Linked DNA regions of Homo sapiens: all the other regions are reported to be linked to region 2. The links are microRNA targets in miRTarBase. Many come from high-throughput screens and were not tested one by one. Region 2 holds a microRNA gene; each other region holds the end of a gene's coding sequence.
The links. The annotated mature microRNA hsa-miR-489-3p reads GUGACAUCACAUAUACGGCAGC and lies in region 2 at 2,158-2,179, opposite strand. An mRNA with a match to its seed (bases 2 to 7 or 8) in the 3' UTR can be bound and repressed. Matches are read on the target gene's strand: a 7mer-m8 pairs with bases 2 to 8, a 7mer-A1 pairs with bases 2 to 7 and ends in A, and an 8mer does both.

Region 1: the mRNA of STC1 is a reported target of hsa-miR-489-3p. Seed matches in the 3' UTR shown: 7mer-A1 at 1,103-1,109.
Region 3: miRTarBase lists ONECUT1 as a target of hsa-miR-489-3p. The part of its 3' UTR that is shown has no 7-base or 8-base seed match.
Region 4: the mRNA of NDFIP2 is a reported target of hsa-miR-489-3p. Seed matches in the 3' UTR shown: 7mer-A1 at 2,222-2,228.

The regions. Positions count from the first base shown.
Region 1 is chr8:23,842,021-23,845,020 of GRCh38, forward strand. STC1 (stanniocalcin 1) reads right to left here. Exons shown (of 4, transcript NM_003155.3): 4 at 1-3,000. The coding sequence ends at 2,750. Among named protein-coding and RNA genes, the nearest start is that of STC1, 11 kb to the right of the region's middle.
Region 2 is chr7:93,481,790-93,485,040 of GRCh38, forward strand. MIR489 (microRNA 489) reads right to left here and starts at 2,230; the gene lies at 2,147-2,230. All of the region lies in intron 3 of CALCR (calcitonin receptor), which reads right to left. It overlaps MIR653 (microRNA 653), which reads right to left and starts at 1,066; the gene lies at 971-1,066.
Region 3 is chr15:52,754,926-52,758,176 of GRCh38, reverse strand. ONECUT1 (one cut homeobox 1) reads left to right here. Exons shown (of 2, transcript NM_004498.4): 2 at 330-3,124. The coding sequence ends at 622. Among named protein-coding and RNA genes, the nearest start is that of ONECUT1, 34 kb to the left of the region's middle.
Region 4 is chr13:79,550,699-79,553,949 of GRCh38, forward strand. NDFIP2 (Nedd4 family interacting protein 2) reads left to right here. Exons shown (of 8, transcript NM_019080.3): 7 at 319-424; 8 at 1,818-3,251. The coding sequence ends at 422. Among named protein-coding and RNA genes, the nearest start is that of LINC01068, 14 kb to the right of the region's middle.

The DNA of each region.
Region 1 (3,000 bases), not on the chromosome of region 2:
CAAATAAAATAACTTGCATCTGTCATTACCATGATATGTTTCATAACCTTTATATGCACATGGAGCTTAAAAATGTAATTTAACAATAAATAATGACATATACCAGATATGCTCACTGTTTATTCCAGTACTCAGCCAAAAACCTAAATATCATTTAAATTATAAATACATAATGCAAATATAATGGCACAAAAATGTCTAAAGTGCAACCAAATCACAAGAGAAGAATCATGCAAACTGGTCTAGGTCAGCCCCCGAATCACTCTGCAGCAAACACAAGACGAAGCTTTGGAAGTTTAAGGGGGAATTGGAGGGAGTAGGGTGGGGGAAAGAGAAGCAAAAAACTAGCAACATTGTGAGAACTGCTTCTTTCTGTATGTGTAGATATATGTATTGTAGATACATATATAGATATCATCGTGGGGAGAAAAGGGGGGGTACCACGGTTTGAAGAGGTCACAGCCAAAAAAAAAAAAAAAAAAAAAGAAAAGAAAAAAGGAAATCTACTGAACTGAAGAAAGAGAGAAATTTGCTAGGAATACTCATGAACTACTTGTCGCATTGGGGTCCTGGCTTAGTTGGGTTTGCAAAATGGACACAACACACAAACTTTAATAGCTTTTCTGATTCAGAGAAGTCAGCCTTGCCTGGGGGTGGGAAGTGTGGGAGGGAGGGGAAGAGTCTAACTTAGAATATGGTCTACCTGATTTCCAAGAGGCTAAGGCAGTGTCCATAAGTTTGGGGACCTGGGGATGGGACAGTTCTGAGTATAAAAATGCCCTTAACAATCTGATGTCAGCACGCTTAGAGGCTGTGTGGGGACAAAGGCAGCAATGTTTGTGCTGCTGCTGCTGCTGCTGGGTCTGCTGCAATTGCTCTTGGTCCTTGAGCAGCACGTTACTGGTTTTAAAGGCTTTATGGTAAAGTTGTATTGCTTTTCATTTTTCTGGAGATGTGCCCTCTCTCCTCCCACCAGGATCCCTATCACTCGATTTGGTCAAATCTTGAGTTTAGCCTAGTGAGAGTCAAGCACCAATAGTTTCTACCTAAGCGAGTTTGGAGTGGCCCCTGCAGTCCTACCCCTCCTCCCTCTCTTCCTCTCTTGACATTGACCTTTGGTGGGCAGTGACGCTCATAAGGGACTGTTGGGTTCAAGGACAGTGACCCTGAGAAACTACTGTTGTTCATAGATAGGTTAGTCGTTTGACTTTGGTGGTCGCCATCTTGTAAACATCATGGCAGAAATGATCAAACCACCAGCTCTTTTTCCCTCTTTCTTTCTTTTTTTTTTCTTTTTTTCTATTTTTTTACGATCCTACAGAGATGGTCCAGCTGCCAGGACTACTTTGGCAGGCAGCGTGCTACAGGACGAAAATGTAAGAGAAGTCTATTAAGGCTGGACAGCCCAGGGTTATTTATACTCTCTCAGCCCCAAGTCCCCCGGACTAAAGACCTAAAGGCTGATTGACTCATTCCTGATTGATTTAATGGAAAGTCTCCCACCCCATCATCATTTGCCAGAGTACCAGGCACCGATGAAAGGGGACGAGTAAAGAACTGCCACTTCCTAATGTATAGTAGGCCTTATCACACTGTAAGTGGTCCAAGCCCATAGGGATGCTCTTTTTGGTTCCTGGAATTTCCAGTTGGATGTGACAGAGATCTTTCAGTATAGGTCTAAGTCAAGAGTAGCCTCTGGGTTGAGGTGGGCTGGGAGATTAACATCTTACCTGGGGTCCTTCAGATAAACCTGTTGGTTTTTCCTGTCTCATACAGGCCCATCTTAAGTTTTGATGTTGAATTAAAACTACTTCTACCCCCTTAGTTATAAAAAAGGCCACAAGGAGCATTTATGTGGATATCTGGAAGTGAGATAGTTATTCCATTCCCAGGAAAAGAAAAATAAAGCTAAGTTACAAAACTAAATCTATATGCAATAAAGTTATTATATACTGCTTTGTTTAAGCAGAGTCCTCTGGAATTTATGTACAGTACATTAGTTTTCAGCTATTTATATTCCACAGTTAGACCTTAAGATTCTCTGGTTTTAAGACAATTGTTAAAGATACTTTTAAAGCTCTGAGCAGTTACAGTACGTAAAGATGTTAGCTTTTTGTTTTTCATTAGATGCAAGAAGATGCAGGCTCAAAGTCTGGTTGGACAGCCAGGCTCAAGCAATTTGGTAAATGTGTCGGAAAGAAAATTAGACATTGGAGGATCAAGACCATAAGACACTAGCTCATTAGAGATCAAGAATTCAAATGTGACATTCATATTCGTCCATGGCCAGCACAGATTCATAACACGAATTCCATTTAACATCTTTATGAGCATTTAAGACATGCATTTAAATAAAGTTTCCTTATCAGCTAACTCTACTGGGGCAACCGTTCTAAAGGGATCCACATCTTCAAATTACAATGGCTGGAGAGTTACATGAATGTTTTGTGTTTGGGGGTGGTCTCAGGGGAGCAGGGGAAAAACATGGCAGAGGAAGTTGGTAAAAGAGGGTACTTTCTCCTGAGGAGAGGCAGAATGGTCACATGGATTTTGTTGGTGGGAATGCTGCCATTGCAGAATGTTGGGATATTGATTACAGAAGCCTAGTTTCATGCAATTTTCTTTAAGGGGGATAGAAAATAGGAACTACTTTAAAAAAATCAAACCAGGCACAGTACACTCAAAACTGGTGTGTCAACACCCCTAAAATGATACTAGTTTGGTGAGGTTGTGAATAACCTCTCCCTGGTTATGCACTCTCATGGGATGTGCGTTTGATGTGGGAGGGAGAGTCCTCCTCACCTCGGAGGTTCCTGAGGAGGACTTTCAGCTTCTGCGGCTCATTGGTGCGTCTCCTGTTGAAGTCAGCTCGTGGGTGTGTTTGGGCACAGTGGTCTGTCTGCAGGATGTGGAAGAGGCTGGCCATGTTAGGCCCAATTTTCTCCATCAGGCTGTCTCTGATTGTGCTGACTGTGTCTTCATCACATTCCAGCAGGCTTC
Region 2 (3,251 bases):
AGAGAAAGTAATGAACCCATAAAAATGATTATAACTGTGCAAATCCTTTACCAGTGTAGCTGAACACAATTCTTTTGATATATGACACTTTCCCCACTGGTCTTCAGATCAGTCAGCAAATATTGATCAAACTTGATGAGCCCAACATTGTGCCAGATGCTGAGGATACAGTGCTGAATAAAATAAGTGTAGACTGTGCTCTCATAGAGCTTACAGTCTGGCAAGATGGACCAACACTATAAAATATATTTCTGATACTTGAAATTATGAACAATAAAGAATCATCAGTCATAAAATTCTTAGATATTCCTAATGGAATTGGAACACGATTTGCAAAATTTTTAAAAAAGAGTAATTTGAAGGGATTCCATGTTGAGGTTTCTTTTTTTAGTTTATTACTCAACTTTTGTATGAATATGTGTGTTTTAAAAATTCAATTACATATTAGGCAACCATCAAAACAAGAATGGATCATGATGCCTTCACAATAGAGATATTAATTATTGGTTCAACTTATACATTTATTTTAGATTCTTCTTTTGTGGCTCTAAAATCTTCAGTTAATATGAGAATGATCATTTGATGTATTATTAATTTCTGGACCATTTTCTCACCATCTTCAAATCGAATTAGAAGATGGAACATGATGTCATATATAAATCTTATCTGTCACTTGTATTAGATATGCTAAACACTGGGAAGTATTTTGTTTAAATCTGGCTTTCTTCCCAAAAGTAACATTCTGAATTCTCTTTTTATATGGCTGACAACCAACCAAGAGATTTTCTTGCTCTAGTTGGAAATTCATGGAAACCATAGGCAAATAGTATGTCCGAGGATAACAAGTAGAAAACCCTATGCTTGTATTTTCAATTATATTTTTATTTGCTTTAATGCAGTTTTAACATCAGTAACAGTGGAAATACGACAATCTGTATACGAGTAGTTATAATTCATGCTGATGAAAGTAGCTTCCATCTTATCATTCTTGCAATATTGAAACAAACTCCAGTGAACTTGTTTGAAGCTGGTTCAGTAGAGATTGTTTCAACACTGAAGGAATGAAAAATTAGAACCTCTGTTGTCAGATGAGCAGTAATAATCTGCATCAGTTCCTGGTCTGGTTCATATTTGAGCACTGAAGATGGAATTTTCCCAACAGTAGATGAATGTCTCAGTGGCCTTCTTCCTAAAATAACATACCCATTGGGGCATTACGTTTATACATACAGTCATCCCTTGGTATACTCAGGGGATTGGTTGCAGGACCTCCTGTGGATACCAAAATCTGAGGATGCTTAGGTACTTCATATAAAATGGTGTAGTATTTGCATATGTGGATACCAAAATCTGAGGATGCTTAGGTCCTTCATATAAAATGGTGTAGTATTTGCATATAACCTATGTACATCCTCCTGTATTATTTAAATCATCCCCAGATTATTTATACCTAGTACAATGTAAATATGATGTAAATAGTTGTTATACTGTATTATTTAGGAAATAATAAAAAGAAAAATAGTCTGTATGTTTACAATACAATTTTTTCCTGAATATTTTCTATCCAAGATTGGTTCAATCTATGGATGTACAACCCATGGATACAGAGGGCTGACTGTATAGATAGATAGATAGATAGATAGATAGATAGATAGATAGATAGATAGACAGACAGATAGATAGATATAAACATATAAATATATGTATATGTATGATTTTATGTATATTATATATATATAATTACAATCATGGAATTACTACTGCTTAAAAATAACACATATACAAATTTCATAAAGTTTATTAAATGTTAAACTTTTGCTGATAATTTTATACAAATAAGAATTGCTGGGAAGGTGGTATCATTTTCAGCAATACAGAGACAAAATAAAACCAGTAGTGATTGGATGAAACTACCAAACAATGTAAGAGACTTCAAATATCCTACTTATTATAAGTGTTATGTCTATACTACTTATTTCAGGGGGTTAAATAAAAATATGATTATATGTTCACATTCAGATAGAAATGAGATATTAAGGGCATATTGTTTTTCTGAATAAACATCAGTTTTCAAAGCTTTGCATATAAACCATCTTACATGATTTTTCAACATACAAACAAACAAAACTCTTAATTGTTGTCCCATGTAGCAGTTTAGCTGCCGTATATGTGATGTCACTCCTAAAGGTTCAAGTAAATGGCGTCACACATACGACCACCAAGCTGCCACCAACAGCAGTAGTCAGCAGCCCAAACATCATCAGTTTTTTTCAGTCGACAAATACTTTGAGTGCCTCTCACATGTCAGGCACTCTTCTAGGTTCTGGAAATTCAGCAGTGAACCAAACTGGCAAGCCACCTGCTCTCATAGAGCTTACATTCTTGATTTTATCCACACTAATCATGGAATCCACAGGAAAGGAATCTGATTTGAAATGGTCATATGCTTATGCAATTCCTACTGTGATGTAGGACAGTCAGTTTGCTTTTGGGTTACAGGCAGTTTCTAGAAGTACAGAGACAGTTACAGAGCTGTTCTTCATGGAACTTTGAGAAATGGTCCATCTCTGCAATAGTTCAAGCCCACTGAGTGTATGGACCCAAGCTGCTGTGCTGAAGGGAGAGCTTCCTATTGATTGCCACATGCAAAACTACTCTAAAAAGTATGTAAACCTAGAATCCACAAACTGATGCAACCAATGAGATTTTCATGTCACCATCCTTAATGTTGATAATGTATATAATTATTTTTGCTTTTCAGTTACTTACACATTTCAAAATAAGAAAGGACAAAGCACACTGTTGTAAAAAGTGTTAGCCCTGGTTTTCCCAGGTAAGATCAGATGCCTGGCTGGTGTACTGTGTAATTCTACTTACATTATATAAACAACGAAACTGCATATATCATAAATTCAAAGCAAATAGGTGAACATAGATAAGTAAACAAGTAACAATAACACCTGCTCTGAAGAACCTAATTTTTATGTCTTTGTTATTACCATTGGCTTTGTTGTCATCAGCATCGTCACTGGCATCTTTTTCTGAGAGCTCACTGTATACCAACTGCTGCTCTAAGCTTACTGTATACCTCGCAGGAGGGAGAGGAATTGAGTGGGTGGTTATGGTTAATGGAAAGAGGCTAATTGAAGGTGGTGACCCAAACTGAGACTTTAAAACCTATATGGAAATCGAGTTGATAGAGTTCAATAGTTAGTGTATTTTCACAACAATCTATTGTCTAAAAAGTAATA
Region 3 (3,251 bases), not on the chromosome of region 2:
CAAACTGATTAAGTTCATTTAGCCAGAAACTTACATTCTACAGGTGAGGAATCTGAAGCCCAGATGGAGTTAACTGACTTACCCAGGACAAAGAGCAAATACTCATCAAAGCCACAACCCATGCCCAGGCCTCACAGAACTTCACCTGTATCCCAATTCTCCATTCTGCTATTACACTTTCCTCCCAGCCTCCAATGGTGCTTAAAGCAGAGGTCAGCAAACAGAAAGCAGGCCATGAGGAATGGCTAACAAATTTTATGAGCTCTGTCTTTCTACTCATGATTCTCCCCTAGACCATTTGTTCTAACATCTTCTGTGTTTCTTCACAGCATGCAAAAGGAAAGAACAAGAACATGGGAAGGATAGAGGCAACACACCCAAAAAGCCCAGGTTGGTCTTCACAGATGTCCAGCGTCGAACTCTACATGCAATATTCAAGGAAAATAAGCGTCCATCCAAAGAATTGCAAATCACCATTTCCCAGCAGCTGGGGTTGGAGCTGAGCACTGTCAGCAACTTCTTCATGAACGCAAGAAGGAGGAGTCTGGACAAGTGGCAGGACGAGGGCAGCTCCAATTCAGGCAACTCATCTTCTTCATCAAGCACTTGTACCAAAGCATGAAGGAAGAACCACAAACTAAAACCTCGGTGGAAAAGCTTTAAATTAAAAAAAATTTTTAAAAGACCAGGACCTCAAGATAGCAGGTTTATACTTAGAAATATTTGAAGAAAAAAAAGCGTTATTTATAGTCCAAAGAAACCAAAGACTTAGCTCACCTGCATTCTGACTTTGTTTGGAGACACACACTTCAGCAGGGCGGCGACTTGGCAAGACAAATGATGAGCAGGAAAACACCACTGGATCTCACACCTTCAATCCATGACCATCCTCGCTGTGCTTGGCTGTTTAGTGGTTTGGAGCATAGTGATTTTGAGCCATTGAGCGGACATCTTTTAAGATCGAACTTTCTCATCTGTTCTACCATGCCACGAAGGTGTATGGTGTCTCAGTACTACCACCACCAGTGGTTACAGACTTAGGCAGAGCTGGTCTTCAGAAATGGTTGTTCTATAGGAGTGCAACCAACATGGTATGGGGTTGTCTGAGTTCATTGGATTAGGAGTGTGATTTTGCTCGTCTAGCCTAACGTTTGAACCTGCCAGGCCCGCAACCTAAATGCAGATTCAAACCCAGCAAAGAAAATTTGAATGACACCTAAACCAGTGCATTCTCTTTGTTTGTTAAGGAATGTTCAGATATTTTTTAAGAAATGAAACATGAGTCCATCCATTAAAAAAATCACCTAGGTACCAAAGAACACACTTAATATTATAGTGCAGGTATTTTATTGCAATGATTTTAATAACCAAAGCTATTTTTACACAAGATACTATGAAAAGTTATACGTATGAACTGATCTAGCTGTAATACACATGCCACATAGAATCATGACTATTATTTATGACTCTTGAAGCATTTGAAATATGAGTTTTCAGAACTGGCAAGAAAGAATGTAGCTTCAGGGAAGCAATTAATATCATGGCAGAGAGGTCGATGCAGTACACGTGTACATCCAGATGGCACACTCCTTTTCAGGATCCATAAATGTCACTTAAGTAGAGAGATAGACATGGTTCCATAATCTGTTCCTAGCTGAGAAAACCTGAGGATCTTTCCAAAGTAGTACCCCATTTTTACACTAGAAAACTAAATTTAACAGGGAGGGTAACTAAATTAGAAAATTTGTTCAAAGTAATGCTTTTTAGTAAAAGGTCACTAAATAAAGAACTATCCTTAGATTAATTGACTTATATTTGCTTTATGCATCTGGCACCAAAAACCTCTTTTAAATACTTTACAAATACAAATAAAGTTTAAAAAAACAACATTATTATTCAAATGAGCTATTCAGTACTTATAACTATCCTAAAAAGTTATCAAATTAACTTATTGCCAATCCCAGAAATTTTATGACTTGGACGTCAACAAAACAGCAGGTGCAACTGAGAAATGGTGGAATTGGTGGAACTGTATAGAAAAAAGCCAGTGTTCTGGTGGACGACAAGACTTTTGATCTATTGGTATTAATCAATTTATGGAACTAAGAATAGCCTCCAAAGCATTCTGCCTTCTTTCTTGCTACTGCATTTAGCTGGAAATTTTATAATATAGATTTTGCTCTCTAACAGGGACAGATTAAAAACTAGACCTGAGCTTACAAATACAAAATTTTAAATTTCTATTTGTCCAAATCACTTAACCAGAGCTGTAGAAGTCAAAGTCAAAAAAAAAATGAAGTCGTATTAGTGGTACCCCAGTGAATCACTTGATTCCCAGAAAAATTCTCTCTGAATTCAGTTGGACTGTAACTTATCTAAGTGGATGCCCCTTATGCCATTAGGTAAAGAATTGGATACTGTAAGTTAATTACCACCCCTACTTAGAACTATGAAATTAAATGTTATCCTAATGATAAGTTGTTTTATTGAGATTCATTAAAAATGCCAAAGAACAAAACTGAACCATCTTGACACAAAACATAACTCCTTAGCATCAAATCTCAGCACCTTGTCTAGGTCTGTAACAGGCAGGCAACTAGAGAGGTAAAGCAAAACCAACAAGCCATCTATCTGTGTCTCCTTCATGTCTGCTGTCGAATGAGAAGAGGAAACCAACATATACTTCTCTTTTGATGAAATACTTCATTTGCCTTGACATGTTTTGTTTTTTGTTTTTAATTTCACCCACAACTCCAGCTTAAAAATTTCCCTTCTAAATATGGCACAATTATAGTTCAGCTATTGAAAGAGACCATTTAAATGGCCACCCTTCAAGATTTACTAAAAAATAGAATCTTGTCAATGACATAAACAAAAAGGAAAAAACTGATTAACATTTTCTCTCTCTCCAGGGATGGAGGGAGCCGGGGATACAGCTACATAATGTATTTATAATTTAGGAGGGAGGAAAGCCTTATTTATTTAAAACGTGATAATTCTAAATGCAGGGAAATTCAAGCTGTGTCTACACACAATCTTACCAAATTCAATACCCCAAGAAAAGAATAGCAGAATTCAGACAACCATGTTTTTTATTTGTTGCTAGTATATATTACCCCCAAAATCAATCCAACTACATGTTACCCTTTTTTTTTTTTTTTTTTTTTTTTTGAGAGAGTCTCACTCTGTCACCCAGGCTGGAGTGCAGTGGTGCAATCTCAGCTCACTGCAACCTGCACTTCCTGGGTTCA
Region 4 (3,251 bases), not on the chromosome of region 2:
AGTTGAATCAGTTTAAGTGCGTCAGGTAACTTTACTATTGAAGAAAATCACTTAAATGTATATTTTTATGTAATTCTGGATTTTTATAGCTAGATTTGCTTTAATTTTGGTACATCTAGGCTTAACAAATTGAAAAATTGTATTTCCTTGTGACAGAGTTTATCCTTATAGTGTAAAATATATTACAGAAATGAATGGAAGTCTGCAAGTAAAATTCCTTAAGCCAAGAGGATCTTGTTTATAATTGTCTACTTTAAATTTATCTTGCCCTTTTCTGTATAAAAACATAGTATATCCATATTATTTCAACCTTCTCAGGCCTGCTCCTTTTCTTCAGAGGATTTGTTAATTATCTAAAAGTCAGAAACATGTCTGAAAGTATGGCAGCTGCTCATAGAACAAGGTATTTCTTCTTATTGTAGAGGTAAGAAATATTAATCTGTGAACTCTGCCTATTCCCTTTATGTATTCAAATTTGCCAGATACATATTAAATGCCTAATGTGTATTCATGATTTTTACTGTTAGCATATTTAATATTTTTTAATACTGCTAACAGTCAGCTTATTGAAATTTGATAAGTCATAGACCTTTTTAGATAACTTTTAGATTTTTAAAATTGAATTTCATAAATTTTAATTTTTAAAATACATAGCGAGTGAACTGAAATTTTGAATCAGACTTTTAAAACTTCTCTTTAAAGATTAACCATAGAATGTATATGAAGTAACCACCAGCACAAAATTTGAAGGCTTGAAAAAACAAAATATGACATAGTACTTAGACCGAAGGAATGAGCATTTTTGTCTAAAACAATATGAAATTCACATAGACATCTGGTGGAGAAAAAAATCTGATTGAAAAACAATTTGTCTTGCAGTCCTTTTAACAGTCTGGATTAAGGAATAAAAGTCATGTGAAGAAAATAGTTCTGTTATTGTTTTCTTAATGTGTGCTGATTTTTTATCAACTATGAAGGCTACAACTTGAATAAGTAGGAATATGAAGAAATGAGTAGAAGTTGTCTTACTGGTTATCCAGTGAATTTCTGGAGGTCGTGGGTATAGTAATAGTATTTATTTATTGTTCAGCGGGAGTATCTTCACATAAAGTAACCTCATACTCCCTATTCTACTTTTTAAAGCAAGTACCATGTACTTTATACCTATAAATAAGGTAAACTTATAAAGCATTTGAACTCTATTACCAAAATGTCTACTAGTACTTAACTTCTGAATGCAGGACTATAAGGAACAAAGTGTTTCAAGTTTATTAAGTATTCTTTTTTCAAATAAATAAACTGCATGCTTTGTGATTTGGTTGCTTACATTTTATCATTTATATAAGTTATACATAAGCTTATATAATTTACTTATTTCTGCTAGAGTACTATGAATACATTTGTATTTCTAGATCATGTTAAAGTATCATTTTAAGTGTTCTACTAAAGTCTCCCCCAACCACTCCCAAAGAAGTCGCTTTTTTATTTTAACAAGCAAAATATCTTTGCAGACACTGGCATTAAGAATTTGTCAGTATTAATAATAAGATTAAAAGGCAAAGTAATTTTGCTGTTTTACTAATTTGTGTGATTGTCTTCTATGCATTTTGAAGAGTCTAAAATACAATGCAAATATTTTCTAGATGAAAATCTGCTATAGAAGCCTTACACTTTAGAATGTATTCTGATATGTAGACTTTAATGAAGAGAATATTATATACTTAATATAATTCTTCTATAAAATGTGTTGTATTATACTATGATTTAGATAAAGACAACTTAATACATTTTAAGACTAATTCCTTCTTTGTCTCCAGACTGCATCAACCCGACATTCCTTTCTTATACCAATGTGAAATTTCCAGATCATCTGTAAACCTACAACTTTAATAGAAGACTACTAATAACAGAAGACAAATTAGTGAAGAAAAGACGGAGTTTCGAAATTGAATGGCAGGGTGGTTTTTGCTTACAAGCCATTTCTGTTCATTCTTTAAGTATCTATATTTCATTTGTTTTGCACATATGCATATGTGCCCATTTAAGATATTTGCATATACTTGATAGAAACCATAAAGTTGTAGCAGTTAAGTCCAGTCACATTTGGTTAATCAGTGTTTGATATAATTGAAAGAGTTGAGTGGATAAACAGTCTTCCAGCTTGTAAATGCCATTGACTTCTGACCTGACATTTAGTATAATAAAAATGAAATTCTTAACCATGTCAAATGATTTAGTTTCTGGCTCTTAGACTCATCTGGCAGTTCTACACATGAAACATCTTTTGTTATATAAGGTGTATTGAAACCTGCAGTGCTGATTATTAGAAAGGATTTGTCAGATTTTTGAACATGATATTTACATTATTATTTAGGAAAACTCTTCCTGTAAATAACCATGCATAACTTACTTTCTGCAATGTTTTCTTAGAAATTGTGTCCAGATAGCTTTCACTAATTTTAAATTAAGTGAACTAAATATATATGTGTATATGTATACACATATATATACACACACACATATATATATTTAGAAACGTGAGTGTTAAAGATAGAATTTGTTTTAGGACAAATTTTAAGAAAATGTGGGAATACCAAATGTCCTTTATAAGAAAAATAAATTTTATTTTAAGGGACATACTAGTTTTAGGGATTTTCAGATGGGAAGCTGCATTTTTAGGATTGCCCATCTTAAGAGATCTTGCAGGAAGAGATTGTATTAGATATTATATTTATTTCATTTAAGATAATTTTCAAAGTTAATTTTCTAAATAAGATAATTCTCATTTGTGTTTGTCTTTTAAAAGGCCAATAAAATATCTTTCAGTATCATTGTAATAATTTTTTAGAGTTTAATTTGTAAAGCTTAGCAAATAAAATCTTGTACTATGAATAGCTTCTTGCTTTATGACTTTAGGATTAACTTGTAAAAAACATATCCTGAACTGAGATATGCAAAATACTCATTTTCAAGTTATGGAAATGTGTTTGTGGCATATAGGACTGTGGGGTCTGTGTGTGTAGTGAGAGTGTGTAGCCACTATTATAACTGGAATTTAATTTACATTCATAAACTACTATATTTCCCATCTTGCAAATCATTTTATGTCTCATCTGTTTTTCCTTTCGGTTATATCTTTGGTTTTGAATACCAACATTTAAAATGATGGTATTTTATCTTTTAAACTTAAAAATTATTTAATACAGCTATATGGACCTTATAAAATTGATTTCTTATTTATTATTAGACAT